Homo sapiens: one gene and its partners. The protein of the gene in region 5 purifies or fractionates together with the protein of the main gene of each other region. This does not show direct contact. Each region holds a gene or a part of one and is shown on either strand. Other genes may lie near its edges. The genes, in order: RBM25, NNT, SFSWAP, RSBN1L, NEIL3, BICRA and HMCES.

Region 1 (4,358 bases), on a different chromosome or scaffold from region 5:
GAGAGAGAGAGAGAGAGAGAGAGAGAGACAGACAGACAGACAGACAGACAAAGACCATGTTGTCTCTAAAAAAATTCTCAGGCTGGGCACAGTGACTCACGCTTATAATCCCAGCACTTAGGGAGGCTGAGGCAGGCGGATCACTTGAGGCCAGGAGTTCAAAACCAGGCTGATTAACATGGCAAAACCCCATCTCTACCAAAAATACAAAAAATTAGCTGGGCATGGTGGTATGAACCTGTAATCCCAGCTACTTGGGAGGCTGAGGAATGAGAATCACTTGAACCCAGGAGGCGGAGATTGCTCAGCCACTGCAGTCCAGGCTGAGTGACAGAGTGAGAATGTCTCACACACACACAAAAGTTCTCATTCCATGAATGCAAATGGTACTCTGGAGGACTACCCGATAGTTTTCTTAAAGCTATCAGGAAACAGTAACTTCTGTAAAGCCTTACCTTGATCGACTGCGATCCTTATTACGATCTGAGCTCCTTTCTCTATCCCGGTCACGATCTCTCTCTCGATCCCGATCTCGGTCTCTCTCTTTTGTCCGGTCACGGTCCCTATCCCGTTCTCGTTCCCGCTCCCGTTCTTTCTCCTTTTCTCGTTCACGTTCTCTTTCCCTTTCTCGTTCCCGTTCTCGCCTTTCTCGTTCCCTTTCACGCTCCCTCTCTCTTTCTCTCCGTTCTTTCTCAATTTCCTGTCTTTCTTTTTCCTTTTTGCCTTTCTCTTCTTCCAGTTTCTAGAAACCAATAAAAGCACTTTTAGAGTTAACTCTGTAGCTCCAGTATTCAGATTTTTCCCGGCGCAAAGCCCAGTACTGGGAACAAAAACACCAAACCACTGATACATTAATATTAAATACTTGTGGTTTTATGTGACAAATTAAACTGAAGCAATCACAAGACTAGAAAGATTTCGTGCAAAACCATATACTCTACACAGACCAGGAATCTCCAATCTTGGATGCTGGGAGATTGTGTCAGGTGTGGCTGGCCACTCAATGACTATGTACTAACTAAAATGACCATGAAGAATGTGGTGGTTCGAAATATTTTCTATGAATACGATCATTGGTTAAAACTCAACTCTGTGCATTATAGATTTCTGTAAATCCACAAGATTATTAATACTAATTAAAACCCCAGACTGCACATTACCTCAAGTTGAGGGTTTCAAAGGGCAAGTGGTATAGAAGAATACCTATAATGCAACTAAATAATCTCTGCCCTCTGATTTGCCCACCCTCCAAAAGAAACACAAGCTGAATTCAGCCAAGAACTGCCTTATCATCTATGGAAACATTTACTCCCACCATTACAAGATGGACAGCCCACCAAATACAAAAAGTTTGAAAATCACTCACTTCAAGCAAAATATATGTAACTGTAATAGTTTAATTTAAAATATTTAAAAGCAACATACTTATGCCCATTATGCCTGTAAGACAATGAAAATATATTTACAATGATAAATCCATCCTTGGAAGGAACGATTGTGCATTAACTTACAGATGCTGTGCTAGGACATGGATCGCCAACACTGGATTAACCTTGCCTACAAGCTATGTTTCTGGGAGGAAGAGCAAGTACATGGTTCACAAATAAACCAAATAACAAAGTCAGACCAAGTTTGTACCCTGACAAGATTACCAGTGTACCACACGGTTTCTACACAAACTCAGAAAAAAATACCCCAAACAGGTAAAACAAAACAAAACAAAACACATTTATCCCTTTTGTTTCACGTTTAGTTTCACCAAAATGAAATTTTAAACTGCAACAATAAAATGTGCATTTTTCTTTTCTCAGTCATGTAATGCATTTAAAACAACTTTAAAAAGCAATCTTACCTGTCAGATACTCTTTTTCTCTTCCTCATGGATCAGAGAACTTATAGCAGGTTATGAAAGGAAAGCTAATGTATGAGCAATATATTCAGTTGCTGTGCCAGTCTATATCGAAGTAGAATACGGGCAAAGTCAAAACTGAATACATTGAAATTACAAAGGGATGAAATAAGATATGATAGAAAGAGGACAGAAACTAACAGCTATTAAAGGGGGAAAAATCTCATTTCTGAAACAGTTCCAATGAATATAAAAATTTATATTGTAAAATGAGGCTAGACTATATAAAACTTACCTCAATGGCATACACTTATAAAGAAATTTGTTTATTTCTGAAATAGATACTTACAGAATATTTTAGCTGTTCCAATACTAATTTTTCCTGTAGAATTCCTCAATTTTTAATTCTTGCTTATTTCACTGTGCTCCTTATATTCAGTTATATAAATAACCATTTGTTTCAGAACTCATTTCAAAAGTTTGGTTCTAAGTAAATGAAAAAGTGAGTGAATCTAGTCCATACTAAATGTTTCCTGAAGTTTATATATGAGATATATATATATATATATATACACACATGTATACAAATACAGGTATACATGTAAACATACATGTATATTTTTAAAGAAAGACTGGAGAAGGGAAATGAGGTGAGTCTAAAATTATGTAAGAAAGTCATGAAGAGGAAAGGACAGATTAAAAAATCATAAATCTTACCTTATTCTCTCTTCAGACTCATCCGTGCTGTAAATGGACGCCCCCTGCCACGCTGATACCCTGACAGTCTGTGGTTATTTAATAAACTCATACCAAAACATGCAAAGGTTCACTGAGCTCATTTTTTGTTACTGGAGTTTCAAACAACCCTTTTAGCCAAACCACCCAATAAAAAACAACTGTTTTGGTTTTTCATTTTGATTTCTTTTTATTTTGAAAAGACATTCTGAAAATTCAAAACATTCCCTCCAGTGAAATAATACTAAGGCAGTAAAATGCCTAACAGATTCCCAAACTTTAAAGCAAATATATTTTTGAATTTTTCTTAAAACATGATTTCCTCATAATTTACCAATAACATGACAGGGTTTAACAAATAAATAAAAACAAAAAGGGGGTAAACCACACACACAACCATATACCATTTTTAAGCTTACTCGGTCCTGAATTTCAGTATTATACCTAACCAAAATTATTCATCTAAAATGATTTCCCATAGACCACCTTTTCAACTCTCAAAATTAATTTTGGGAGAATTATGTTTGTGCTCTTAGACACATTTAATTCTTGAAAAAGCATTGTGTTTGTGAGCAAGGGCTGGGCATCTGGATAGTAAGTGTTCAGCAGCACTGATTCATTGGCATTATTTGTGAACTGCAGATTTTGAAAGCAATGGGAAAAAGTAAGAATAAAAGAGAAAATGAACATTTAACATTTCACTGAGTTAAAGATCTCTCAGTCTATCAGTAAGAACCAGCAACACCTTATTATCTCGACCATCAAAATACATTTCATGCAGTGTTTGCATTGCACCGTTCAAAAGCATCATTTTCAACACCAGCGAACATTCACAGATGCACTGTCATTGAGAGAAGCTTCAAATAGGCAAAACTCGTGAGTGGGATTTACTATGCATAAATACCCATTTCCAAGCCAGTTACCCCTTTGCATATTTTTCTGAGGGGGCATCCATAAATATAATAAAAAACAGAAGCTCATACTTACATCCTATTCCTTGTTACTTTCCAAGCTGAGAGTTTCATCTTGCATTAGTCACCATATGATCTCTATCATAATGGTGGGGGTCAATGAATAGATTAGCTTTATGGGAATTTACAGTTCTTCCATGCATCTAAAATTTGGTAAGTCTGGTAACCACTGACCTACTGTTTAAAATCTCCCCCACTCAACTTAAATCTATACAAATATAAAATGTAAATTTTAATCTCAGCTCTAAAGAAAAGGTATTCCTAAGATCAAGTTAAATAACTGCCCCCAGAAATACACTACAGTGTATGTTATCCTGCTGCCCCCTGAATCTAATTTAAGTCTGACCTTGATGTTTATGTTGAAATCTAAAAATAAAATTAGCTTCTATTCATATTAAAGTGAGATGACTGCAGAATAGTCAGTAACTGAAAAAACTAAGCACAACATGTCAAGGACCACTTTAATATGGTATTGGTCTTCTGTTTCTTTTTTCTATCTAAATATCAATTAAACCTATAAAAAACATTTAAAATTATATTCTAATTTAAGGTTGATTTTTTTTGTCTCTTTGCTTTGGATTCTGTAAAAAGTCTAGATTGGTATCAAGTGAAAAGACAAGAATACTACCTTATGTGTGTCTCTGAATTTGCTGATCTCTCGAGATATCAGGTCTCTTTTGTCTTCTTCCATTTCTATAGCATTTATATCCTCCTAAAAGAAAACGGGCACAGGAGGGAATGAATAAAGAACACCCTACTTCAATATAAACAGTTAAAGGTTAGATATTCTGTATAGGTCTCAA
Region 2 (4,246 bases), on a different chromosome or scaffold from region 5:
AGGGGCTGTGTAGTGTGAGGTGTTCAGTAATATCCCTGGCCCCAACCCATTAGATAGGTCCCCTCTCCAATTGTGACAACCAAAATGTCTCTAGACATTGCCAAATATCCCTCGGAACTAAATTGTCCCCAGTTGGGAACCACGAATTATTAATCCCTAAAAGACAAAGCAGCAACTCCTGACCCCTACAAAAAGTTTTAAATCAATAACTTAGTTTAAAATCCTTACTAAGTGGGATCATTACTAATCTCACTTCATTGTACCTTCAGTATCTGGAAACCGTCCCTATGGTCACACTTACCACGGCTCATTATTATTTTAAAACATGGGGCTGTGTCATTTCCTGTCTGTGAGTTTGGACTGCAGTGGGAATCCATTAGTTGAATGACCTTCTGTGTAGGTTAATCACAAGACAAGTTCTCAAACTAAGGGTTTCCCTGCGGCTCATTTCTTTTTAAAGTTATGGAATACCTGTTCTGCTTATACCTTTTAGATTCATAATTATTTTTCTTGTATCAAAATTTCAATTAATAGAAATAAATGACGTTACTGACACTTCATGATGATTAAGTTTTGGGCAAGTGAACCATTTTACACTCTATTTTTTATTCCTCCCACTTTTAGTCAGAATACACCTGCAGAATAAGTAACAGAACTGTGTGAAAAGAACGACTAGGTCATTACGGTTAATAGTTTTAGAAAAACAGCCGAGGCCTGGTCTGGAAAGCTCACAACCTCCACCCAGATGCTTTCCAGCCTCGGGGATATTCGTACTAGCAGTGACACTAGCCAGCTTCCTCTAGGCTGGCTCTGATGTTGGAAGACAAGCACGCAGATGTGTGTTACTTTTCAAGCCTGGACATCGTTTCTGAGGAATTTAACTCCACCTCTCCTGCCAGAATGGAAAATCAACGCCCCCCATTCCCGCCCTTCACCAACCCCTCTCCGCCTGCCCCTTTCCCTTGGGTCCTCTCTGTTACAGAAGTTCTGATTTTTCCTAGCGAGCTGGAGGAAAGGCAGGTACCCGGAGTGGAGTTATATTACCTGTTTCTTTGTTCTGATGGGACCCCAGAGAGGACATCACGCTTTGTAACTGGTTCTTCAAGGGGAGAAGCAAATGTGTCCCTGAAAACTTCAGCTGCCGCGTTTGGCACCAGGTTTGATTGACAAGGACTGGCGGAGGGAAAGCGCGGAGGCTGGGCTGGGGGCCGCAGGCCGAGGCAGAGACAAAGAGGTTTCGCCTGTCCCCGAGAGTGGAAGGGCCCCTGGGGGTAACTAGCCTTTGAGCTCAAAGGGGCATTTCGTGAGGTCGCCTTTTGGTTCGGAGAGCGCGCGGCGATCGGGTGGAGGGGGCCTGGCGGGAAGAAAGCTGGGGCGGGGAAGGGGCGCGGGCCGAGGTGGGAGCGGAGCTGCAGTCACGTGGCCGCCCGCCGCCGCGGAGTTGGGGCTGTTCTTCCGGGTTGGAGGCGCAGCGCCGCGGGGCCCAAGCCCGGGTCTGCCAGCGCGACGTCCTCTCGCGGCCCTCAGGGCACAGCCCAAGGCTGTCAGCCTCCCGGCCCAGGTGAGCGCGACGGCACTGGCGGGTGCGGGCAGCCGGGGCGCGCGCCTAGGGCGCAGCTGGGAAAGGGGCTCGGGCCTTTCCTGAAGACCACGGCCCTCGCCGGGAGAGAGACCTGTCAAAGAGCAAAGCGGGGCGGGGTCGGCGGTGTCCCGGGCGCAGGGTGCATTGGGGTGTCCGCAGGCCGCAGGCTTAGGTGGGGAAGAAGCACCGTGCCTCTTGGTGTCCCTTTCTCGTCTCCTGCTGGGGCGATGTCGAAGGGAGTGGGCTGGTGGATTTGGGAACTGGGTCCCCGAAGAGGGCAGGGAATGAGGCGGCAGCTGTGCAGGTGCAGATATTTGCAGCTTTGGGGGACAGCGAGAGTCGTACGGGGTCATTTCGGCCCTCAAGATCGGGGGTGGTGGAGAGGGAGGTCATAGAGGACTTTCGATGGGCGGTTCATCCAGAGAGGTGGCAGCTGGATGCCCTTGAGGTATGCTTGACCCTTGAGGGAGTTCGGAGAGGGTGTCCGGCTGGGGACATAGGAGATTGCGAGCACAAATTGTGAGTGTGAGTTGGGGCGGTCTGGCGGTGGTGGGTACAAGTTTCTGGGGCCTAGGCTGGTGAGGAGGAAGAGACAGCGGAGAGGGCGACCTGGGCAGAGCTAGTTCAAACTCAACAGCCGGAATGACTATTTGCAGCCGTGGCCAATCGGCTTCCTAGGGAGGTTATAAATAGCGGTCTCGTGCAGATGCCAGCGGGTGGCAGTTAGTTGCCGAGCAAGGGACGGCACCGGTGGCAGTAGCCGTGACACCAGTGGCTTTGGGTGAGGTCACGGCGCCTGCCAGCCGAAGCTGGCTCAGTAGGGTATTGTGTCCTTGCTGGTATGTCTCGCTTTTAAAAGCGTGACTTGTTTATGGTTGCCGGTGTCCTTTATTCACCCTGTGGCGCCGGCCAGTCCTTAGGTGGTCTGTTTGTCAGGAGTCTTGTAGGACAGACTTATTCGGAGAAGCGCGTGGGGCTTAGGTGCCTACCTACTCTTCTTATTTAAAGTGTGCCCCTTTTCTTCATTGCACCCCTTTTATTTGTAAACCTTGACTTTTTATTAACAGACAGTTTAGGATTGCCTTCTTTCCAGCAGGTGCGCTTAGGCTGCTTACCTTGGTGATAGAATCAGTTTTCCACAAGGCTACACAAACATTTCCTTTTCAAAGGAAATTTTCCGAAAATCCTTGGAAAATGTGCTCAATAGGTACTTAGGCTTAAGGTCACCTAGCCCTATTCATTCAGTCAAAAATACTGACTTCCTCTGTGTTGTGCAAAGCACTGGGGGAGAGTAATACCAAAGTGAATATAACAGCTGATAAGGATATTCTCAGTCCTGGCAACAACCCTGAGAGGTAGGTGCTGTTATTTTATTTTTTCAAGTCTCGCTCTGTTGTCCAAGCTGGAGTACAGTGGCACAATCACGGCTTACTGCAGCCTGGAACTCCTGGGCTCAAGTGATTCTCCCACCTCAGACTCCCAAGTAGCTGGGACTTCAGGCTTGCACCACCATGCCCTGCTAATTAATTTTTTTTTTTTAGCAATGGGGGTCTCACTGTGTTGGCCAGGCTAGTCTTGAATTCTTGGCCTCAAGCAGTCCTCCCCACTAGCCTCCCAAAGAGATGGCATTATAGGCGTGAGCCACCACCCTGGGTGGGTGCTATTATTCCCCATTTTAAAGATGAGGAAATTAAGTACAGGGAAGTTAAGTGACTTCCCAAGGTCACACAGCCAATAAGTTGCAGAGTGGGGCTTCCAATCCGCAGATCCAGAGCTGACTCTCTTAAATATCTGTGGTATCCTCCCTCTTTAGGTTGGGTGCTTTCCCTCAAGGATTTTAATATCTAATAGGGGAAATAACCCATATAAGTTACATTAAACATACATATGAAAGCAATGCTTAAAAAGTTGTGCTTTTGGGCCGGGCGCGGTGGCTCACGCCTGTAATCCCAGCACTTTGGGAGGCCGAGGCGGGTGGATCATGAGGTCAGGAGATCGAGACCATCCTGGCTAACAAGGTGAAACCCCGTCTCTACTAAAAATACAAAAAATTAGCCGGGCGCGGTGGCGGGCGCCTGTAGTCCCAGCTACTCGGGAGGCTGAGGCAGGAGAATGGCGTGAACCCGGGAAGCGGAGCTTGCAGTGAGCCGAGATTGCGCCACTGCAGTCCGCAGTCCGGCCTGGGCGACAGAGCGAGACTCCGTCTCAAAAAAAAAAAAAAAAAAAAAAAAAAAAAGTTGTGCTTTTTTCCCCTAATTTTGAGTTATAAAGTTTTTTTCTTATTGCTTCAAAGCCACAGGAACACATGGATAAATGAGAGCTTTACAGTGAAGATGGAGGAAAATGTGATGATTAGGATGGAGTATTATCTTTTGTATAAACCTGTACAGGTCAATGATAAGATAGTTTAAATATTCTCTATCTTTCAGGGCCATTTGTATTTGGTTTAGACTTAGTGATATGTATTGCTTTTGCCAAGAAATGACCTCCTGATCTCTGCCCTGTATGTTCACAGTTGAATCAAGTGAAATTTTTCACAGAAATGGGCCTATGAAGGCTTTGGCCCTACTGATGTCTGATGCCCCTGCCAAGGATCTGCTGAACATCAAATTACCATTTTCCAAGTAGAAGGAACAAATTTTCCAGATTTCAGGCCATGAAATA
Region 3 (4,358 bases), on a different chromosome or scaffold from region 5:
CTTGGGTATTCCAGTCTGATCAGATATAAGTTGATTACAATCCCTATTAAGTTACAGTTATTTAACACCGTCCCATCCATTTGTTTGAGTCCCCTGTTCTTTCAAAAATCAGAGATGAAGCCGGGCTCAGTGGCTCACACCTGTAACCGGGTGTGGTGGCTCACGCCTGGAATCCCAGCACTTTGGGAGGCCGAGGCAGGCGGATCACTTGAGGTCAGGAGTTTGAGACCAGTCTGGCCAACATGGTGAAATCCTGTCTCCATTAAAAATAGAAAAATTAGCCAGTTGTGGTGGCGGGCGCCTGTAATCCCAGCTATTTGGGAGGCTAAAGCACAAGAATTGCTTGAACCCGGGAGGTGGAGGTTGCAGTGAGCTGACACCGCACCACTGCATTCCAGCCTGGGTGACAGAGCGAGACTCTGTCTCAAAAAAGTAAAACAAAGTAAATTTAAAAATACAACTTTTACTATATTTTCCTAAAATGAAAAAAATGATTAAAACATTGTCTAGGCAAATAGCTTCTCCTTAATGTTAAGTTATTCATAAAAATCAAGGCATTTTAATTGAAATAGCTTTTTGGGATTGATGGGTTAAACAGATTTGGTCTATTCTTATATATACCTTTATTTACAAAAAAACAGCTTTAGTAGCACAAAATAAAAACCAACCATTGCACTACAAACTCAGATTTAAATAAATTCAAATAACCTTTTGTTTAAAAAATGGATATATAGCAGTGAGGGCCTGTCCCCGCCCCATTATTCCCCTAAAAAAGAGGGAAAAAAATGGATATAGAATAATGATGAAAAATTATGAACATCTAAAGGATAAAAACTTGACTGAAAATAGTAAAGATCAGAGATGGAGGCACCATCAAAATGCTTTTGGCTAGTATCACAAGGCTTTAAAATACTAACAAACAATACAATACAGTAATTTTGAAAATCAAGACATACGTAGACATATTGATGGCTCAGGAAAAAAAATTTTATTTTAACAGAATGTGACGCTCAATGGGGCTGTTAGTGGTACTGGATTCTATTACAATATGCACGTATGTGTGTGTGTGTGTTAGGTGTTTCACTTATATTAATGCAAGTTAAACACGAAATGTCAAGCTCTAAGTTTTATGTGGGCCCAATTTCCATTAACGAAATTAATCAGTATATAAGGCAATGTTCTGAGAACACGATTACAGAAAGAAAAGAAGTAACATTGTAAAATACTAAAGAGAACTTTATCTTAAGGGGAAAGCAAACTAATACTCAGATGATAAGCTAAGTCATGCTGAAGTTCTCAAGATTCAATAATTATAACAAACTGAACATCATTTAGCCCAATAATTACGCCGAGACAATGGTCCATCATCTAGAATAGGGGCTGACAAACTCTATAAAATGCCAGACAGTATTAATAAATATTTCTGGTTTTGTGGGCCATATGGTGTTTCATTTCTTCAACTCTGTTGCTGAAGTGCGAAAGTGGCAACAGACAATATGTAAACAAATGAGCATTGCTGTGTTCCAATAAAACTTTGTTATTTTCTTTCCAATACTTTAGATCTGTGGTTGGTTGAATCCACAGATGTGGACCCAATAAGCTGACTGTATTTCAACTCTTTATTTGTGAAGTGGCTATAGTATCTATTCCTTCCTTCTGATAAAAACACCACAGATAGAAAGCTGAACTCATGTGTGTGGCTTAGAGATAAGACAACAAAATCAGAACTATCCAGAACCCGAGGAAGGAGAGCTTATTCTGGATAAATAAATGGGTGTTTACGTTTTAGACCTGATAGAACATTTCTAGTGCATCGTAACTTCTGAGGGATGGGTAGGTTTGAAAGTCAATGCAAAAAGTCTTAAATACCTTAACTGGCCTTTAACTCAGTATAATTACAATTACACTTGAAAGTTTCTCTAAAAGCTCATAAAATAGAGCTGTGCAACAGTAATTCTTGTGCCCACAAAGTAAGGAGCAGGACTAAAGACAGGGCAAAAGGAAAGCCGGTGTGTGCGTTTGCCCCACGTCCTATCATTCCGTTAGGATCGCAGCCCTTGGAGAGTGCCGATGGGTAGAACCATAGTGCAGTCACAGGATGGAAGGGCAAACATCATTTTGCTTTACTACTAAAGTGCTATAATTGCTTCATACTTGTTAAAAGATGTGTCACTTGGCTGGATGTGGTGGCTCATGCCTGTAATCCCAGTGCTTTGGGAGGCCAAGGCAGTAGGATCACTTGAGCTCAGGAGTTTGAGACTAGCTTGGGCAACACAGTGAGACCCCATCTCTTTTTTTAAATTATTGTGTATTTTAATAAAAAAATTTAAAAAGATAAAAAGTGTTACTTAAGGAGAAACCGATGAAGTTCAGAATAACAGATTAAATTAGCTCTACAATTAAATCTCCATTTGATGTAATGTAAACATTTGAATGTTTCTAAGTTAATGTTCTTCTTCTTTTTAAACAGAATATCCTGAATATACTGACCCGTCTTTAAGGTGTCAGGTTCATGTTAGCATTACTGCTAATTAACGACTGACCATGATGCAGCGCTGTGGTAGTGGAGCTCTCGACGCTTAGTGAAGTGATTGAGGATATTTGTGTCTATACTACACGAGCCCAGGTTTTTCAGCAGCACTATTTTTTATATTCAAAGTTTCCCATGTTAATCCAGAAAAGCATAAATTCCAAATCTTTAATTTAAAATACTGTGGTAAGTATATGCCCTAGGTGGCATCAAGGCTACCAGGAAGCTGTGCTGTTTTCTGGGGAGTAGAAACTCCCTCACTGTGTCCTTCCACTGGGCATGTGTCACTGTCTCAGTTGTGGAGGGATATGGGGAAGCAGGTCAGTGAGAGGGCGGTGATGTTAACTTATCCCAGTTAACACCTATTCTTTCACTGCCTCAAGAATGAATCCCTGAGGATATTAATGAACATGTTACCAATCTAGAAACAAATAATCCTGAATGAGTAATTCTGTTACCCGAATCAATGAGAAATAAATAATCCAACGCATTCACTTTCCACCTCCATTAATCATTCTAGTTTTTAACTTCGTTTTACCAAAAGAAGGAATATCACTCCCGTTTTCTCCTGTGGTCATAGTGGTGCTATCATGAGTGCCAGAGATGTGTTCTGCAGACTGGACCACGGTGCATGCAGCCTGTGCGTACACGTGTAGCCCTACACCAGCAGTCCAGGCAGCTCCCCACTCACCTCTCTGTTTGGAAGGCTCCTCCTCCTCCGTCGGCTCTGACGGGTCGTAATAGTCGCTACCGTAAGTGAACCCCACGGCATTGTAGCTCCCATCCTCTGCTAGTGCTTCACTCAATCGCTTGTATTCTTCCTCTTGAATAAAAATGAGAATTTTATCAACAAAAATAGAAAATTACTGAGAAAAACTTTATATATTTCTAAAGTTGTAGCTATCAGTAAAGCATACAACATACTTTTTTCAACCTACTTTTGAGGTAAAATAGTTTTAAAAATTCACACTTTATATCTATCATTATGTACTTTTGTCAGTACATGTTTACCCACAGACAGCTGAATACACGTCTTTTGTGGAAAATTTCTTCCTGCTGAGAAAATTTTGGGATTAAGAACTGTATTAAAGACTGTTACGGCAAAGACAAGAACATCAATTTTATTTATACGATACTGTTAAAGAAGAACAGTTAAAGAGTTTGGTTTTTGTTTTTTTCAAATCCCAGTCTGCCCTCAAAAGCTGGGAAAATTCTTTGTGGCTCTATATATAAACTATCCTGAGGTCCTCTCAGAACGCAAAGACTCCTGTTTTTCCAATCCACTGGGTACTGTCAAGATAATATCAGAAAGAGTGAGTATAAAAAAATGAATGGGAGTAAATTTTTAAATACTTAAAAATTTTAAAAAGTTTGTTGCTGAAGTAAGTTTGTCTTGAGCAGTACCTTGCCTTGCCTCCTCCTCAAGCAAGTCCGTATGCAAGGCTAAATACCTCTCTTCATCACACAGGGCCTCTATTCGCGCCTCCTCTTCAGACAGCTGATAATCTCTGTTCCACGTGGAATACTCAGCATCGTACTCAGAAAGGTCATGCAGGTGACCACGTCCATCATATCTGTAATGTGAACAAGCTGGTCAATAAAAGGAAATTAACGTCTAGACTGGTGTGCGTGTGTGATGTTTTATATATGTATATATATATACACACACATACTTACCGATTAAAATAAACAAAAATATTAAAACAAGTATAAAAACTCTTCCCAGATTTATATTTAATTTGGATAGTCATATCTCACCTACTTTTAAACTCAAGTTATCTTAACAAACTCTAAATTCCTTTCCACAGTAAGATAACATTTATAACTA
Region 4 (4,358 bases), on a different chromosome or scaffold from region 5:
GTTATTTTTCTACTGGGTTGTTTACACTTGAGAATGCTCTTTGTACATTAACTTTGGTGTGTCATGAGTTCCAAATGTCTTAGTCCAGTCTATCATAATTTTGAACCTCATTGTTGATGTCGCTTCCCCCCCAAATACTATTGCCACTGCATTGTTTGGTCTTGCTTAGGAAGGTCTCCTCCAGGCTTAAACAATTTTATTCTAATATTTTAACTGTTTTATCTGTGATGCTTAATTCTCTAATTTACTTCTTGTATGAGGTAGGGGCTCTGCCTTTGTTTTTATGAGAGCCAAATATGCCAGCATTATTCATTAAATACATCTTCCTCTTCCCACCTATCTCATATATTAAGTTCCCAATATACTTAGATCTATTTCTGGACTCTTATTCCAATGATCTATTTGAACTTTATAGTAATTTTTAATATCCTGTATCATAAGCTGCCTCTCACTAATCTTCTCTTTCACTGAAAAGTTTACTTCCTTATGAATTTTAAAATAATTTTATCCAGGACTGGAAGTGTTAGTCCAATTGAAATGCAGAAAATTTTAAAGAACTATCATTTTTATCCAATCCAGAACACAGCAGGGCTTTCCATTTGTTCTGATCTTACTTTATATCCTCCACAAAACATTTTAGTCTTCTTAGTATAGGTTCTGAATATTACATTTATTCTAAAATAGTTTATATCTTATGACATTTTTTCCATCCATCATTACAATTTCTTGTCATTTGCCTACATTTCTCATGCTTTATTTACATTTTAGGTTTTATAACAAATTGTATTAGCATGTATCGCTATTTTTAAATTTATATTCCAATTATGCTCTAAACTTTGCATTCCTCCTTCCTCCAATTTTCAACTAACATACACACCCCAACATACAAACACTCATCCCCTCCAATAAAAATGTGTATACAACATACCTTTTCCTTTTGAAAGGTGACTTTGGCATATCAGCCACAGGGATCATTTGTTCTCCTGGACGAACCCACATGATGGGACCATCATCACTATCTTTTCGACTCTGTAATTTTAGACTAGATAGCGTCCCCCATGGCAGTGTACACTGGAGATAAATAATTATGCAGATTGCAATTATTTTCAAAATGTATCTTCAAGTGTATGTTAATAATAATATTGTTCCCCTGACAAACACACTTTCATACACAGCTTTATACTTAAGCATCTGAAATACATAATATTGAATATATCCCTATATATTGATATACTTTGCTTCAAAAAACTGTTTCAAACACACCAAGAAAATAATTATGCTTGGATGGTTCTGTCCCTATACCCTGCTAGAGGTATGATTCACTATATTCATCATTTGTTATTCTTCCTTCTACCATATAGATCATATGATGTTAACGGACTAAATAAGCAAGTGCTCTCATAAGAATCTATAAAAATGAACAATTAAATTTAAGTTTAAAAACTGGATACCTCTTTGATTAATGATAATTAAAAACAAAACAAAACAAAATCAAAACATATTTCTGTTCAGCAGTTTCTTGAAGAGGTTGTTGGCTTAAACCAGAGACTAAAGTATTTTAAAATGAAAGAACAAGGCTGGGCGCGCAGTGGCTCACGCCTGTAATCCGAGCACTTTGGGAGGCCGAGGCGGGCGGATCACAAGGTCAAGATATCAAGATATCGAGACCGTCCTGGCCAGCACGGTGAAACCCCGTCTCTACAAAATACAAAAATTAGCTGGGCATGGTGGCGCGCACCTGTAGTCCCAGCTACTCAGGAGGTTGAGGCAGGAGAATCGCTTGAACCTCGGAGGCGGAGGTTGCAGTGAGCCGAAATCACGCCACTGCACTCCAGCCTGGTGACAGAACGAGACTCCAAAGAATGAAAGGAGAGGGAGGGGGGAGGGAGAAGGGGGGAGGGAGAAGGGGGGAGGGGGCAGAGGAAGGGAAGGGGGAGGGAGAAGGGGGAGGGGGGAGAGGAGGGGAAGGGGGAGGGAAAAAGGGGGGAGGGGAGGGGAGGGGAGGCGAGGCGAGAGACAGAGGTGAAGGGGAAGGGGAAGAGAAAAGAGAAGACGGTGGCCGGGCACGGTGGCTCAGGCCTGTAATCCCAACACTTCAGGAGGCTGAGGCAGGCAGATCACCTGAGCTCAGGAGTTTGAGACCAGACTGGGCAACATGGAGAAACCTCATCTCTACTAAAGATACAAAAAATTAGCCTAGCATGGTAGTGTGTGTCTGTAATCCCAGCTACTCGAAAGGCTGAGGCATGAGAATTGCTTGAACCTGAGAGGCAGAGGTTGCAGTGAGCCGAGATCGCACCACTGCCCTCCAGCCTGGATGACACAGCGAGACTCCATCTGAAACCAAAAACAAACAAACAAAAAAAGACAGAGAGAGGGAAGAAGGAAACTGAGGGCCACTGTCCATGGAATGTTGAGAACAAAATTAAAAAAAAAAAAAATTTCACCACACACCCCCTTTTCAAAAAGGCTTGTCAAATTTCTTTAGAAACAATGCATTTAGGTTGGGTGTGGGTGGCTCACGTCTGTAATCACAGCACTTTGGGAGGCTGAAGCAGGAGGACTGCTTGAGCCCAGGACTTCAAAGCTAGCCTGGGCAACATAGCAGGACCCCATCGAAAGAAAGGAAGGGAAAGGGAAAGGGAAGGGGAAGGGGAAGGGAAGGGGAAAGGGAAGGGGAAGGGGAAGGGAAGGGGAAAGGGAAGGGGAAGGGGAAGGAAAGGAAAGGAGAAATAATGCATTTAGTTCATGTGCTTTGAAAATTAAACTTGAAGCAACCATTTAAGTAATATTTGGTAATTTTTAAATATAGTCCAATAATAAATGCAACCTAATTCCATGATGTAACTACTAGAGAGAAGTAGAAAAGGAACAAAAAGTTTAAAAGGAAAAGAGAAAAAGGAATGGAACAAGGTTAAAGAGAAAGGGAAGAAAAAGATATATGTACATATAGGGTAAAAACACCAAGCAAACAGAAGTAATAAAAGAAGAGATGTCCTATAGATTATGTGGTATCAGAAATCTTGTCACATTCCACAGCTTACCTGGACCCTGAATTTCAGTGTAGGTTTGCAGCATTGACCTTTGAGTTACTGATTAAATAATTAACCTAACCACACAGCTCAGAGATTCCTCTCTCAGTGGGATAGCCCTAGCACCTCACAATAAGAAATACTTTTTGAAAATCAAGAGGCTTTAAAAAAAAAAAAAAGGAATCTGGCTACAAACTATTTAAAGGGGCCTGTGGTGGTGGGCACAGTGGCTCACACCTGTAATCCCAGCACTTTGGAAGGCCAAGACAGGAGGATCACTTGAGTCCAAGAGTTCAAGACCAGCCTGAGCAACATGGTGAAACCCCATTTCCACAAAAAATACAAAAGTTAGCTGGGCATGATGGCATGTGCCTGTAATCCGAGGTACTTGGGAGGCTGACGTGGGAGGATCATCCAAGCCCACGGAGGTCAGGGCTCCACATTACACCACTACACTCCAGCCTGGGCAGAGAGTGAGGCTGTCTCAAAAAAATAAATTAAATAGAGGGGCCTTTGGCTACATTGTCTAAACATGTTATTTTATGGATGATGAAACTGAAGCCCAGAAAGTTTAAAGGGCTTGCCCAACCCAGATAAGTACAGCCATGGCTAAAATATGGGTGTGTAATTTCCCAGGCGAGTTTTCCTGGAATTTAGTTTAGGAATGCTAAACTGCCATTCCTTTGTCTTAAACATTTGTAGTAGAATCCTTCCTGTACTTCTTAAGTCCTTTAGTACTTAGTTTACAAAGAGCTGATAAACACATGGAACCTAATTTCCTAAAGTGTTAAGAGGTGTTATTTCATGGCCCACCACTTAGCTTTGCCATTACAATTAGAACCTGAGATGTCGCATGTACACACTACACAAGAATTATGTCAGTTTCCCATCTCTTGCTCTCCTTCCCTCCAGTTCAAATAAAACCAAAACGTTTCTATTTCTGAAACAGCCATTCATTTATATTGCATGTAGCATGAAAGAAACAATCACAATTTAGATTACTCATATTGGTTTTTCTTCCCTTTTTTAAAAAAAAAACTCTAATCCCATGACAGATTGTCTCTTACTTTTAAAAATGGTGACTCTTCCAACATGTCAAGGAACTCAGGGAAATAATCTCCTACTTCTTCATCAACTGCTCCCACCAAGCTTATTTGTCTCATTGGGCCAGCTCTGTAAGTACCATGAGAATACGTTCTTTTTACCTGAAGAAACATGGATTTAATTAAAAGTTAAATACGTTCTTTTTACCTGAAGAATATGGATTTAATTAAAAGTTACACATAAGATAATGCTTGCTATCATTTTGTAGCAATAAATTATTAT
Region 5 (4,358 bases):
AAAGAACGTGGATGGATCTCAAACAGTCATGCGAGATGGTGTTTATTTTTATTTTTATTTTTTTCTTTGAGGTGGCGTTTTGCTCTTGTCGCCCAGCTGGAGTGCAATGGCACAATCTTGCCTCACTGCAACAACATTCGGCTAATTTTTTTTGTATTTTTAGTAGAGATGGGGTTTCGCCATGTTGGCCAGGCTGGTCTCGAACTCCTGACCTCAGGTGATCTGCCCACCTCAGCCTTCCAAAGTGCTGGGATTACAGGCGTGAGCCACTACGCCTGGCGTTGTTCTTTAACTAAAAGTCCTAAAAAGCATACTTGCTACTTTGTATCTGAAATTCAAAAGTTGTAATTCTAACTAAGAAATACTACCAGAGCAGATATATTTTATAGGACTTCCAGCTACATGTCCAGGAGAACACCCTCATTTTTGTCACCTGTGATACAGAAATTTTAATACATAACGTCATCCTCTCTTTTCCTTAATGATTATCGGCAGCTCCTGAAACAATTTTCTGTTGACCCTCCTTCCCCCTTTATCTGGCCCTCCCAGTCCCTTTATCTGGAATTCCTAACTATGGCAACCCGATGTTATATCTCCAACACAGGACACATTTCTCCACCATTTTCTTTTCTCAGCTGCTTTCTTTTTTCCTTCAGAAAGCAGCTGACTTACATCCAGCATTTTTAAATAAGTGGAGAATTTATAACATATAAATGGAGGGTCGTCCTCCCATGTATGTCTTTTCTTGCCAATGGGAGACAGGCAGAGAAGGAGTTACAGTCATCCCTCGGTATCCTCAAGGGATTTGTTCCAGGACCCCCAGGATACCAAAATCTGCAGATGCTCAAGTCCCTGATATGAAATGGCATAGTCCTTGCATATAACCTATGCACACCTTTTCATATATTTAACTCATCTCTGCATTACTTCTTATAATACTGAATTCAATATAAAGGCTGTGTAAATAATTGTTATACTGTATATTTTGTGTAATTTTTTTATTGTTTCATTATTTTTTGTTTCCAAATATTTTCGATCCAAGGTTGGTTGAATTCATGGATTGGGAACCTACGGCTATGGAGGGATGTACTTTGGTTGGGACCTAGAGTAATCTCAGGTGGAATTCTGAGATTCACTGGCTTTTCCTCTTATTAGCTGTGCCTTTACTGATGGGTAGATGCCTTCTCTCAGCGGTGGGGTGAGGGACCATTTGGTGTAAACTCCTAGAGCAACCTGTAGGAATCCTTAAGCTTATTTCATAACAAATTCTGAGACAGTCTCTGCTCAATAGATGTGTTTACTCCAAGTTTCCTATTCCAGCTCTAAATTTACCATCAGTTAATCCTGATGATTTATCCTTGACTGGTTTTTTTAATGTCTTGTTCATAATCATTTATGATAACTGGTTTAACTTTTGTTCATATACTCACATTTGAAGTAAGCTAAGGGGGCTAAACTTTTAACTGACTGGATAAATCCACCACGTTTTCACTTTAACCCTAATTAGTGCCTCATGATAGAAGTTCATTAAGGAGTTAATTAAGAATGTTTGAGTTGGGAGGCTGTCCTGGAACAGAAAATCATTTCCAAACAGTCTTTTCTGTTCCGTGGCTTAAGTGGAAAGTAGAAGTGATCATCTTAAAATATTGTGGCATTTGTTGTACCTAGATGAAATATCTTGGCATATTTTTATTTCCTTAATGCTTTGTAGAAAATCTCAGACATTTTAACTAATGAATTAGGGATTTAAAAAAACATTAATGTAACCTTAAATTTAAATGATTTCTTCATAAGCCATTAGTAATAGGATCATATGATTAATCACAGTGCACAGCATTACTTAGGAATGCTGCAGCCTGTGTATGTATTGAATATAAGAACACCAGGACTGAGACTCCACAATCAATCAAGATCAACTAGCAGAATAAATGTCAAGTGATGAAATAAATTCACCCAGCAGCCCTTCTGCACCCAGCTACTTTACAAGGAATAAATTGCAAATTACTGTCATTTATTTCATTTTTCTCCTTGTCTGGCAGCTATAGTGTTCATCTTGTGGACAAGATGCCTAGCAGAAGCTCACAACATAATACTATTAAAGCAGGTGGTCCATTCATAATTTATAGCCAGTTTATTTTTTCTTTAATATTATATGATAATTACTTTGACTTTTGTTCTCTTAATTACTGTTCTCATTACCACACAATCCATGCAGTGTTGATGAGGCATATTTTCTGATTGGTCTTGAGATAGATGTGTATTCCATCCAGCTATTGGCTTATAAATTAGATGATTGAACCCATTTTTAAACAGTTAAGAATAATTACTAGAAACAGTTTAAGTTGTCGATCCAATTACTGTAAACACAGAGCAAAACACAGTGATGCAGTTTCAAAGAATGCATGTGTTTTAGGCTGAAATTTTTCCTGCGTTGATGCAAAGGCTCACATAGGAGGGTGAAATGACAATAACAAAATCATTAATATTTTCTCACATTTGCTGCCGTCAGGGATGTTGAAGATCTGTCTTTAATCACCAGTGCAAGTACTGACACCATGTCCTTGTCTCTTGGTTGCTTCTTGGAGTTTTCAGTCTCAGGATTTCAGAACCACCTGGGGCCGTCCAGAATGAGTCATTTCACTTTTGTTTGTTTTAATCCTCGAAATAATCCTGTATGACAAAATCTACATTCAGTGAGACCGATTAATCCAAAAAATTCAGACAGTATTTTTATTATAATGAATCGCCCTATCTATAAAATGAGTTAAACCAAGCTTGTCCAACCATAGGCTTGTGGGCTGGACGGCTTTGAATGCAGCCCAACACAAATTTGTGAACTTTCTTAAAACGTGAGTTTTTTGTGTGATTTTTTTTTTAAGTTCATCAGCTGTCACCAGGGTTACTGTATTTTATGTGTGGCCCAAGACAATTCTTCTTCTTCCACTGTGGCCCAGGGAAGCCAAGATTGGACACCCCTAAGTTAAACTGTGATAAATTGACCATGAAAAAATAATATTCACTTTAAAATTACAGATCTGTGCTTAGTAATGTCTTCCTTCTTGATGATAGTTTTTGTCTGGTCTCTGTTCAGTTTTATTTATTAATAAGTATTGAGAATCTATTATGCCTCGGGCATTGTTCTTGATTCTAATGACATGTACATGAGCAGACTATAGCCAGCAGGGCCAAATCCATCCCACCACCTGTTTGTGTAAAGCTTTATTTACATTTGTTTAGATATTATCTATGGCTGCTTTTTGTGATAACAAACTTAGACCGTAAGACCAGCAAGCCTAAAATACGTTATCTGAAAAGGTTTGCCAGCCCCGATCTGTTGTATTAATAGATCACTTATAACCCAGAATTAATATTCAAAATCATGGTCATGATCACGAAAATGAACAATTCTGTATGCTACATTTAAGTAAGAAATCTGCTATATTTTAGAAAGTTTTTATAAAACAAAGAGGAACTAAGATGTCCTCAGTTAATCAGAACATTTAATTATCCTGGATAATGTTGTCTATCATAAAATTAAGATTAGCTGTGCATATTTAGAGCCAGTGTGATACAGGTGGCATTAGTATCTTGGTTACGTTACTTCAGTGCTTCATAACTTAATGTGCATATGAATCACCTGGGAATCCTGCTAACATGCAGATTCTGATTCTGCAGGCAATCAGGAGTAGGGGTGGATATGTCTGTGTTTTCTAACAAGCTCCGGGTGATGCTGCTGCTTCTGGTCAGTGGACCACACTCTGAGTACCAAGAATAAGATCACACGTGGCTATGTTTTTGTTGTTGTTTTTTGTTTTTTGTTTTTTTTGAGAAGGAGTCTTGTTCTGTTGCCAGGCTGGAGTGCAATGGCGCGATCTCAGCTCACTGCAACATCTGCCTCCCGGGTTCAAGGGATTCTTCTGACTCAGCCTCCCGAGTACCTGGGATTAGAGGCACCCGCCACCACGCCCAGCTAATTTTCTATTTTTAGTCGAGACGGGGTTTCACCATGTTGGCCAGGCTGGTCTTGAACTCTCGACCTCAGGTGATCCGCCCGGCTCAGCCTCCCAAAGTGCTGGGATTACAGGCGTGAGCCACCATGCCCAGCCTGTGGCTATGTTTTTAATTTAATTTTTAAGGGAAGAAATGGAGTGGAAGGCAGAAGTGAAGGCAGAGAGATGACATTTGGGCCTCTCCTTTCTACTTTAATCCTACCTTCTACCTTGGCCCTTCTCCCCAGAAAAATTTTAATACAGAATCTAAACCTCTCCCTGGATATGTGGAACCCTGGAGCTCTCTAGGTTGAAACAAGTAGGTTAGAAAATGTTCAACCGTTATCCAAAACAGCCGCCTCTAAAATA
Region 6 (5,053 bases), on a different chromosome or scaffold from region 5:
CTCTGCCTTCCGGATTCAAGCGATTCTCCTGCCTCAGCCTCCCAAGCAGCTGGGATTACAGGCGTGCACCACCACACCCAGCTAAGTTTTGTATTATTAGTAGAGAAGGGGTTTCACCATGTTGGCCAGGCTGGTCTCGAACTCCTGACCTCAGGTGATCTACCCTCCTCGGCCTCCCAAAGTGTTGGGATTACAGGTGTGAGCCACTGCGCCTGGCCGATAAATTATAAAAAAAAAAAATACGTTGAAGTAAATATTATGGGTAGTACCGCCAAGATACTAGAACACATGTTAAGGCTTAAAAAAACAGAGGCCGGGCACTTTGGGAGGCCGAGAATAGCTTGAACCCAGGGGACGGAGGTTGCGGTGAGCCTAGATCGTGCCACTGCACTCCAGCCTGGGCGAAAGAGCGAAACTCCGTCTCAAAACAAAACAAAATATAACACAACAACAACAAAATCACAATCTGTCTCGATTACTCATTTATTCAACCCGCATTCACCTACTGTGTGCACGAGCTTTTCTAGGGCACTGGGGAGGCAGAAGGGACTAAAACAAAGTATAAATCTCCCTGGGCTGCAAGCATCGGGAGGGCAGGTCCGGGGGCTCTGTGTCCCCACTGGGCCCCCAGCACTGCGCAGCGCACACAGTGGGCGCTCACCAAGCGCTCGCTAAGGGCAACGCGTGAATCCGTGTCCCGCCAGCAGGGCGTTTACGGCCTGGTGGGGCGGAAACGGACCCGACACCACCGCGGCGTCCTGGGGCTTCTGGGAATCCCATCAGCGCGGCCAGAGCGGCCGGGGACAGGCTCCGAGGCAGGCCCGACCCGCCTCCCCGGCGCCGCCGTGGCTCGACGGAGACCAGCTAGGGTGAGTGATCGAGCCACGCCTGGGGTCCCGGCCTGTCACCCCGAAGTCCCCGCCGCCTTCCACCCTGTCAGGCTCCAACTCTGGGCTCCGGCGCGGTCCCACCTCCGGGGGGAACTCCCCTCCATCCCCTCCATTTCCTTCATCCTCGACTCCCGCTATCTTTTCGGACCTGCGGCGCTCCCCCTGGACGCGTCCTCCCGCCGGACGACCGTCCTCCGCCTCAGGGGACGCGCCCAGGACGCACGGCGCCCCCTCCCCAGCCGGACCGGCGGTCTGGGAGCGCGGATCCCTTCAGCTCCCCCGCGCCCCAGCATCCGGATCAGGGCTCGAGGCAGTCGACAAACTACACCCGAGCTCGAGCAGGCGCGCCCCTGAACCCCCGGGACTGGGGCTGGGGGCGGGGGCGGCGCCGGCGCGGAGGGCCCAGTCCCCGGACGTCCGCAGCCTCCCATTGGCTCCGGGTCCCGCCGCTCGGCCTGGCGGGGCCGGGGCTGGTCCGCCCGGACGCGGGGCGGGGATTCCTGAAGCCCCTCCTCCGGCGAGGGCGGAGGGAAGAGGAGGAGGAGGAGGAGGAGGAAGGGGGTGGGGGGCGGAACACAAAACCTGAGAGGTTTTTTTTTTTTTTTTTCCGTTTGCATTTAATTAAAAAAAATTTTTTTTTTTTTTGCATACCCGAGGGGCGCTCCCCGGAACGGGCGCGGGCCCGGGGCGCGCGGGCCTGGGCGCGGGGCGGCGGCGGGGGCCCGGCAGCGGCTGCCGAGCGGCCGCCATGCGATCAGGCAGTGCGCTGACCGGCCCGGCCGGCCGGCCCCTTCTGGGTCCTCCCTTTGCAGCCCGTGCGGGGCCGTCTCGGAGACCCCGCGCCGACGGCTGCTCAAACATCAGGGTGAGTTTCTCACAATGTAGCAATTTCTCTTTAAATCTCTTAACTCTCTCTACCTGCGAGTCGGGGCTGTGACAGGGCGCAAAAGCGAGGGGGGAGTGGGGGTTGGCGGCGAGGGTGTGTGTGGGGGGAGCCGGAGCCGGGGCCGAACCCACCCCCGCGACACTCTCACACTCAGCCCCCCAGCCGGGGCGCAGCGCCCGCTGCCTCCTTTTTTTTTTTTTTTTTTTTTTCCTGCTCGGCGCCCACCGCCACCGGCACCCCCAGCCCCGCGTCTCTTCCACCACCGCCGCCGCCCCGATCCTATGGGGACCCCCCCCCAACCGGCTTCCCTGCCCAGACCCGGCGCCCAGTGCCTCCCCGGCCCTCCCGCCGGCTGCCGGGGATACAATGGAGCGGCGGAGAGAGGAGACCTAACGTTCCACGGGGGGAGGGGCGCGGAGACCCCCTCCCCGTCCCGGCCCCCTCCCCTCGCCCCGCTCCCCGCCTTTCGGGGAAGGCGAAGGCCACCGGGCAGCGGGCGGTGATCTCCCGGCCGGAGGCGGAGAGCCTGCATCTCCCCGCCTCGCTCGGCCCCTGCGCCCCCTCCCCAAATCCCTCCCGTGGGTGTCGCGGACAGTGGGGGGCCCTGGAAAGCTGGGGAGGGATGGATGGGGAAGGAGGCCACCGGGGCTCCCCCCTTCGCACCGCCCCTAAACAATGAAAGGAGTTGACTTGACCCCCAGCCCCCGGCAATAGAGGGAGGTGACCCCCTCCCCCACCCCCAGCTGAGGCTCATCCCGGAGGGGGCCGTTACGGGGGTGGGGGGGGTGAGCGCCTCCTGTCACTTCCCGAGGTTCGGGGCGGCCCCCCATCTCCTACCCCTCGGCCTGGGAACGGGAGGCACCAGGCCCGGCCGGGGCACCGCGCTCGGGTGGTGACCTTTAGACAAAGGCAGCCCTTTCCCCGGGGTGAGCCCGGACGAGCTGGGCCTGCGGCCTCCCCGGGCCCCTGCGGAGGGCAGCCAGGCCGCGGGCACCCGGAGGGAGGGATGGAGGAGGAGGGAGGAGGGATGGAGCCATCTGGTTTTCCCATCCCTGGCTGCCCCTCGTCTGCTTCCCCGACTCCTGTCACGGGCGGCCGCGGGGAGACGAGGGACCAGGGGCTGCTTGGGCCTTGGTGCGCGGCCAGCCGGGAGGACCGGGCAAGGAGCCGCGGGAGAGCTAGGCTCGGGCTCGGGCGCCGGCGGTGATTGGGAGGCACTGCGGCTTCTTCCTCTCCGCGCCCCTTTGTTTTGCTTTGTGGTTCTGAGCAGCTGAACTTCCCGGGAGGTGGGGTCAGAGGCCGCGGTGTCAGCTCTCCCGGGGAGGCCCAGGTGACAGGTCCTAGCTCTCTGGTGTCCCCATCCTGGTGGGCTGCAGTCTGTGCCCAGGCCCATGTCCTGACCATCGTCCCCTTTTGTCACCCCCCCCCCACACACACACCTACCTACCCACCCCATAGTATAATACAGATCTAGGGGTGCCTTTCTCTTACACCTCTTTACGGAGGGCACTTGAAAGGGAAACTAGAAACATCCAAGGCATCAAGGCCTGAGATTCATGATAAGCTCTCTGTGCTTTTAACCTCTCCCAGCACCTGGGGTGGGTGTGGGGGGTATTGTCAACTCTGACCTGCCCTGGGTCATGAGAAAATGGGAAGACAACTCAGGAAGCACCCCCTTCCCATGCACTGGTAGGACTTTTGGGACATGTTGACCTCCCTTGCCTTCCCTCATAGCTCCCCGCTCAAGATGGAAATATTAATAACAATATCAAACTAGGGAGCTTTATTCCGCTGCTGCTAAGTACATTACACGCTGGCCACAGTCCAAGGAGGAAATAGAGACGGGACAGACATTCCCGTTTTCCAGACAGGTTCATGGAGGCTCAGAGAGGTTAAGAAGCTTGCCCAGGGTCACACAGCCCTGGGTCACACAGAGCCCCAATTTGTAACCTCCTGGAGTTTTTCCAGCTTGGCTCAAAACTGTTAAGCCCTTCTTCTGTCCCACCCTTTGGCATTTTGTCCCCCTGACTTCAGTGGACCTGGTTCGGAAATGTAGATAATATTTAGAAGAAGCGGCCAGATTTTTTTTTTCCCTGGGAGCTGGTTTTGAGAAGGGGTAAGATGCACCTCGAAGTTGGGCTGAGGGCAGGATCATTTCACTTGTGGCTGGAATGGAGAATTGTCTGCAGGAACTGAGAACTGAAGGTGTGTGAGGAGTGGGGGAGGGGGAGCCCCAGGCCTGGCCAGTGATGGGCTCGGGGTACCTGGGAGCTGGCCCCACTGTCATCTTCTCCCTTCTCTACCTGAGCGGGGGACTTGGCCCCATTTGCTGCTACTCAGCCCTGAAGTAGAGAAGAGAGAAGCTGAACTGTTTGGGAATGTTGATGTCTGGTTGTTCCTATGCCCTGTGACCCGCTGTCGCTTTGCCACACCATGGCCCTTTGATGCAGCTAGCGGAGAACTTTCTTGCCTGTTCTCCTTGGCATGATCCACTCTGTAACCTTAGGCAGGTCATTTAACTGCTGGTCCTGTTTTCTCATCTGCAAGTGGGGGTAATTATAGTTCCTTTAAGTGACCTGGAGGTGGGTAAAAGTATTATCCAAACGTGTCATTCATATTTATCATTCAGCAGGCCGGGTACGCAGTGTGGGCACAGGGGAGGAATGTCAACTGGTGGCATTTAATTTTTTTTTTTTTTTGAGACAGAGTCTCGCTGTGTTGCCCAGGCTGGAGTGCAATGGCCTGATCTTGGTTCACTGCAACCTCTGCCTCCCAGGTTCAAGCGATTGTCCTGCCTCAGCGTCCCGAGTAGCTGGGATTACAGGCACCCACCACCACACCTGGCTAAATTTTGTATATTTAGTAAAGACGGGATTTCACCATATTGGCCAGGCTGGTCTTGAGGTCCTGACCTCAGGTAATCTGACTGGCATTTAAATTTAAGGCCAGGTGCCATGGCTCACACCTGTAACCCCAACACTTGGGGAGACCGAGGCTGGAGGATTGCTTGAGCCCTGGATTTTAAGACCAGCCTAGGCAACACGGTGAGACCCTGTGTCTACAAAAAATGAAAAAATTAGTTGGGCATGGTGGCACTCACCTGTGGTCCTAGCTACTTGGGGGTGCTGAGGTGGGAGGATTGCTTGAGCCTAGGAGTTTGAAGCTGGGGTGAGCCGTGATTGTGCCACTGCTCTCAAGCCTGGGCAAGAGTGAGACCCTGTCTCAAAAAAAAAAAATAAATAAAATAAAAAATGTAAAGGTGAGTGGCAGAATACCT
Region 7 (4,358 bases), on a different chromosome or scaffold from region 5:
ATTAGCTGGGTATGGGGGGGCGTGTGTCTATAGTCCCAGCTACTTGGGAGGCTGAGGTGGGAGGATGGCTTGAGCCAGGAGGTAGAGGTGGCATTGAGCCAAAATAGCGCCACTGCACTCCAGCCTGGATGACAGAGCCAGACCTTATCTCAAAAAAAATAAAAAAATTGTTTTCAAGTAGATTCCCTGTTTAAAAATAATCTTGAATTCTTTATATTTCAATACTCCTAAATAATGTAATAAATACATATGTTAAATTAGGTTAGAATTTCATTATGATCTCCTCACTAGATCTTCTCTCCGTGGCAGGATGCAGACTCATCTGAGCGTATCATTGCTCCCATGCGCTGGGGCTTGGTCCCTTCTTGGTTCAAAGAAAGTGATCCTTCCAAGCTGCAGTTCAATACTACCAACTGTCGTAGTGATACCGTAATGGAGAAACGGTCATTTAAGGTAGGTGGCTGGTAGCTATTAGTGCCCCGTATACCTCAGAAATAAGGTTCCAAAGGGTGTTTCCATCCTAGCCTACAGAGGACAACCAAAAATAAATAAATAACACAAAAAAGAATGTTCCCAGTTGTTAATGTGGAATGCTATTTTGTTACTACATAACAAACCACACCAGACTTAGTAGTGTGAAACAAAATGATAAACATTATCTCTCATATTCTCTGGGTTGACTGGGCTCATCTGGGCAGTTTTCACTTGGAAGTTCTCATGTTGCAGTTAGATGGCAGCTGAGGCTGGATGTCCAAGATGACTTCTTCACCCACATCTGACCCTTCAGCTGGGATGACTAGAACAACTAGAAGGCTTTCCATATGCCTAGCTCGAGGGTGTCAGGGTAGCCAGGCTTCTGTTACGGTGACTCATTTACCCCAGAGCTCATGATCCAACAGAGCAGGACAGAAGATATAAGCCTTTGTCTTACAGCATCACTTAATCTTGGCAGTCATACAGCATTACTTATGCTGTATTCTTTTATTGTTATTGTTTAATTTTTTTTTTTAAATAGAGACAAGGTCTGGCTATGTTGCCCAGGCTGGTCTCAAACTCCTGGGCTCAAGTGATCCACCTGTCTGGGCCTCCCAAAGTACTGGGATTACAGGTGTGAGCTATCACGCCCGGCCTACTTCTGTTGCATTCTATGGGTTACACAGAGCCAGCCCAAATTCAGTGTGGGAGGTGTCTACATAGGGTGTGAATACTGGGAAGCATGCTTCATTGGGGAGGCACCTTTGAAGACTAGCTATGACAAGTACCTATTTGTTAGAAAAGAGGTGATTGCTTTTATGTACATTATTTAATCTTTTCAACATCTATGTGAGTTGTGACTTTCTTTATACATAAGAAAAGAGAGTGGCCGGGCACGGTGGCTCACACCTATAATCCCAGCACTTTGGGAGGCCAAGATGGGCGGATCACGAGGTCAGGAGATCGAGACCATCCTGGCTAACACGGTGAAACCCCGTCTCTACTAAAAATACAAAAAATTAGCCGGGCGTGGTGGCGGACGCCTGTAGTCCCAGCTACTCGGGAAGCTGAGGCAGGAGAATGGCTTAAGTAAACCCAGGAGGTGGAGCTTGCAGTGAGCCGAGATCACGCCACTGCACTCCAGCCTGGGCGACAGAGCAAGACTCCGTCTCAAAAAAAAAAAAAAAAAGAAAAGAGAGGTACAGAGAAATTAAATAACTGTTTTAAGGTCATACATTGGCAGACCTCAGATTTTATGTATTTATTTGTTTGTTTATTTATTTTGAGATGGAGTCTCATACTTTTGCCCAGGCTGGAGTGCAGTGGCATGATCTTGGCTCACTGCCACCTCTGCCTCCAAGTTCAAGTGATTCTCGTGCTTTAGCCTCCCAGGTAGCAGGGACTACAGGTGTGCACTACCACGCCCAGCTGATTTTTATATTTTTAGTAGAGATGGGCTTTCACCTTGTTAGCCAGGCTGGTCTCGAACTCCTGACCTCAAGTGATCCTCCCATCTCGGCCGCCCAAAGTGTTGGGATTACAGCCGTGAGCCACCCGCCTGGCCCAAACCTCAGATTTTAATTCAAGTTCTCCAAGTAATGGCAGCCTGTGAAACATGATTGTATCACTAAGACCATATCTTGCTCACATTTTCCCTCAGGTGCCTCTGGGAAAGGGAAGACGCTGTGTCGTTTTAGCAGATGGATTCTATGAGTGGCAGCGATGTCAGGGAACAAACCAGAGGCAGCCATACTTCATCTATTTTCCTCAAATCAAGACAGAGAAGGTATCATTATCAGCATTCACAATATATATTTGGAAAGGCACAGGGAAACAAATTAATCCAAAGGACATTTTTTTCTTCCCCATAGTTTTATTTATTTATTTTAAAATAACAGCTTTGGCCCAGTGCGGTGGCTCACGCCTGTGATCCCAGCACTTTGGGAGCCCAAGACGGGAAGATTGCTTGAGCCTAGGAGTTTGAGACCAGCCTGGGCAACATGGTGAAACCCCGTCTCTACAAACAATACAAAACTAGCTGGGCATGGTGGTGTGTGCCTGTAGTCCCAGCTACTCGGAAGGCTGAGGTGGGAGGATCACTTGAACCCACGAGATAGAGGCTGCAATGAGCTATGATCACACCACTGCACTGGGCGACAGAGCAAGACTCTGTCAAAATAAAATAAAATAAAGTGAAATGAAATGAAATGAGCTCATTGAGAGATAATTCACCTTAAAATTCACCTTTTTAAAATGTGCAATTCAGGAATGTTTTAGTATGTTCAAAGTATGCAATTATTACCTCTATTTTTAGAATATTTTTATCACTCTAGAAGGAAACTACATATCCATTAGCAATCACTCTTTATTCTCCACTATGCCCAGCCCCTGTCAAACACGAATCTACTTTCCATCTCTGGATTTGCCTATTTTGGACATTTCATAAAAACAGAATCATAGAATATGTGGTCTTTTGTGACTGGCTTCTTTGATTTAGCATAATGTTTTCAAGATTCATCCATGTTTGGCATGGATCAGCACTTCATTCCTTTTTGTAAGAACAGACCACATTTTGTTAATTCATTCATCAGTTGATAGACACTTGGATTGTTTCCACTTCTTGGTTATTATGAATAATGCTGCTATGAACATTCATGTACAAGTTTTGCATGGATTTGTTTTCATCTCTCTTGGATAGATGCCTAGGAGTGGAATTGCTAGGTCATATTACAACTCTACGTTTAACATTTCCTTCATAAAACTTTCACTGTGGCTGGGCGCAGTGGTTCAGGCCAGGCACGGTTGCTCATGCCTGTAATCCCAGCACTTTGGGAGGCCAGAGCAGGTGGATTACTTGAGCTCAGGAGTTCAAGACCAATCTGGGCAACATGGCGAAAACCCATCTCTACCAAAAATACAAAAAATTAGCTGGGCGTGGTCCCAGCTACTTGGGAGGCTGAGGTGGGAAGATGACTTGAGCCCAGGAGGTGGAGGTTGCAGTGAGCTGAGGTCGTGCTACTGTACTCCAGCCTGAGTGACAGAGTGAGACCCCATCTCAAAAATGAAACAAAAACCCTTTCACTGTAAGACATAATTTGAACTGTTCATGTTAAAACATTATCAGGAGATTGAAAACAAATCTGACATGCCAACATCATGTTTTATTTTTAATTAGATTATTTAGTCTGACACTGCTAAAGCACCTGAGTTCTTAGCAGTTTGCTTGTTAAAATTGGGAATTGTTTGTTCACCTGTCATCTCATTTTGGGGACTGGAAATAGTGTTACCGAGTAAAAGGGACTTGCTACCCAATGTGCTAGAAGCCAATACCATGATACTGAGTAGCTGGTCCCAGCTACTTGGCAGGCTGAGGTGGAATGATAGCTTGAGCCTGGGGTGGGGAGTGGAGGGTGCAGTGAGCCGAGATTGCACCACTGCACTCCAGCCTGGGTAACAGAGAAAAGTTTTTTTTTTTCTTCTTTTTTTTTTTTTGAGACAGAGTCTCTCTCTGTTGCCCAGGCTGGAGTGCAGTGGCGTGATCTCGGCTCACTGCAGCCTCTGCCTCTCGGGTTCAAGCGATTCTCCTGCCTCAGCCTCCCAAGTAGCTGGGACTACAGGCGTGTGCCACCAGGCCCGGCTAATTTTTTGTATTTTTAGTAGAGACGCGGTGTTAGCCAGAATGGTCTCAATCTCCTGACCTTGTGATCCACCCGCCTCGGCCTCCCAAAGTGCTGGGATTACAGGCGTGAGCCACTGCGCCTGGCCGAGAAAAGTTTTTTATTTCAAGTCGACTAACAAGAAGACAGGAGTCCAGCTCAACTCTGTCTCCCTAGCTGGCTTTAAGGAGTACTTTTATTAAAAAAATGTTTAGGGAGTGGATTCTG

The links.
Region 1: the proteins of NEIL3 (region 5) and RBM25 purify together in Homo sapiens (affinity purification with mass spectrometry; one large-scale study listed by BioGRID and IntAct). This does not show direct contact.
Region 2: the proteins of NEIL3 (region 5) and NNT purify together in Homo sapiens (affinity purification with mass spectrometry; one large-scale study listed by BioGRID and IntAct). This does not show direct contact.
Region 3: the proteins of NEIL3 (region 5) and SFSWAP purify together in Homo sapiens (affinity purification with mass spectrometry; one large-scale study listed by BioGRID and IntAct). This does not show direct contact.
Region 4: the proteins of NEIL3 (region 5) and RSBN1L purify together in Homo sapiens (affinity purification with mass spectrometry; one large-scale study listed by BioGRID and IntAct). This does not show direct contact.
Region 6: the proteins of NEIL3 (region 5) and BICRA purify together in Homo sapiens (affinity purification with mass spectrometry; one large-scale study listed by BioGRID and IntAct). This does not show direct contact.
Region 7: the proteins of NEIL3 (region 5) and HMCES purify together in Homo sapiens (affinity purification with mass spectrometry; one large-scale study listed by BioGRID and IntAct). This does not show direct contact.

Annotation. Positions count from the first base shown.
Region 1 is NC_000014.9:73,099,576-73,103,933, reverse strand, and holds part of RBM25 (RNA-binding protein 25), read right to left. Parts: intron 4,268-4,358; coding exon 4,184-4,267; intron 743-4,183; coding exon 456-742; intron 1-455. UniProt on the Homo sapiens protein: RNA-binding protein that acts as a regulator of alternative pre-mRNA splicing. Involved in apoptotic cell death through the regulation of the apoptotic factor BCL2L1 isoform expression.
Region 2 is NC_000005.10:43,601,734-43,605,979, forward strand, and holds the start of NNT (NAD(P) transhydrogenase, mitochondrial), read left to right. Parts: upstream 1-1,446; 5' UTR 1,447-1,561; exon of another isoform or gene 1,562-2,937; intron 2,938-4,246. UniProt on the Homo sapiens protein: The transhydrogenation between NADH and NADP is coupled to respiration and ATP hydrolysis and functions as a proton pump across the membrane. May play a role in reactive oxygen species (ROS) detoxification in the adrenal gland.
Region 3 is NC_000012.12:131,713,817-131,718,174, reverse strand, and holds part of SFSWAP (splicing factor, suppressor of white-apricot homolog), read right to left. Parts: exon of another isoform or gene 4,105-4,358; coding exon 3,935-4,104; intron 3,354-3,934; coding exon 3,222-3,353; intron 1-3,221.
Region 4 is NC_000007.14:77,765,374-77,769,731, reverse strand, and holds part of RSBN1L (lysine-specific demethylase RSBN1L), read right to left. Parts: intron 4,238-4,358; coding exon 4,100-4,237; intron 1,072-4,099; coding exon 929-1,071; intron 1-928. UniProt on the Homo sapiens protein: Lysine-specific demethylase that specifically demethylates methylated lysine residues of proteins.
Region 5 is NC_000004.12:177,354,501-177,358,858, forward strand, and holds part of NEIL3 (endonuclease 8-like 3), read left to right. Parts: intron 1-2,494; exon of another isoform or gene 2,495-2,670; intron 2,671-4,358. UniProt on the Homo sapiens protein: DNA glycosylase which prefers single-stranded DNA (ssDNA), or partially ssDNA structures such as bubble and fork structures, to double-stranded DNA (dsDNA).
Region 6 is NC_000019.10:47,607,414-47,612,466, forward strand, and holds the start of BICRA (BRD4-interacting chromatin-remodeling complex-associated protein), read left to right. Parts: upstream 1-1,720; 5' UTR 1,721-1,755; intron 1,756-5,053. UniProt on the Homo sapiens protein: Component of SWI/SNF chromatin remodeling subcomplex GBAF that carries out key enzymatic activities, changing chromatin structure by altering DNA-histone contacts within a nucleosome in an ATP-dependent manner.
Region 7 is NC_000003.12:129,288,545-129,292,902, forward strand, and holds part of HMCES (abasic site processing protein HMCES), read left to right. Parts: intron 1-309; coding exon 310-453; intron 454-2,134; coding exon 2,135-2,260; intron 2,261-4,358.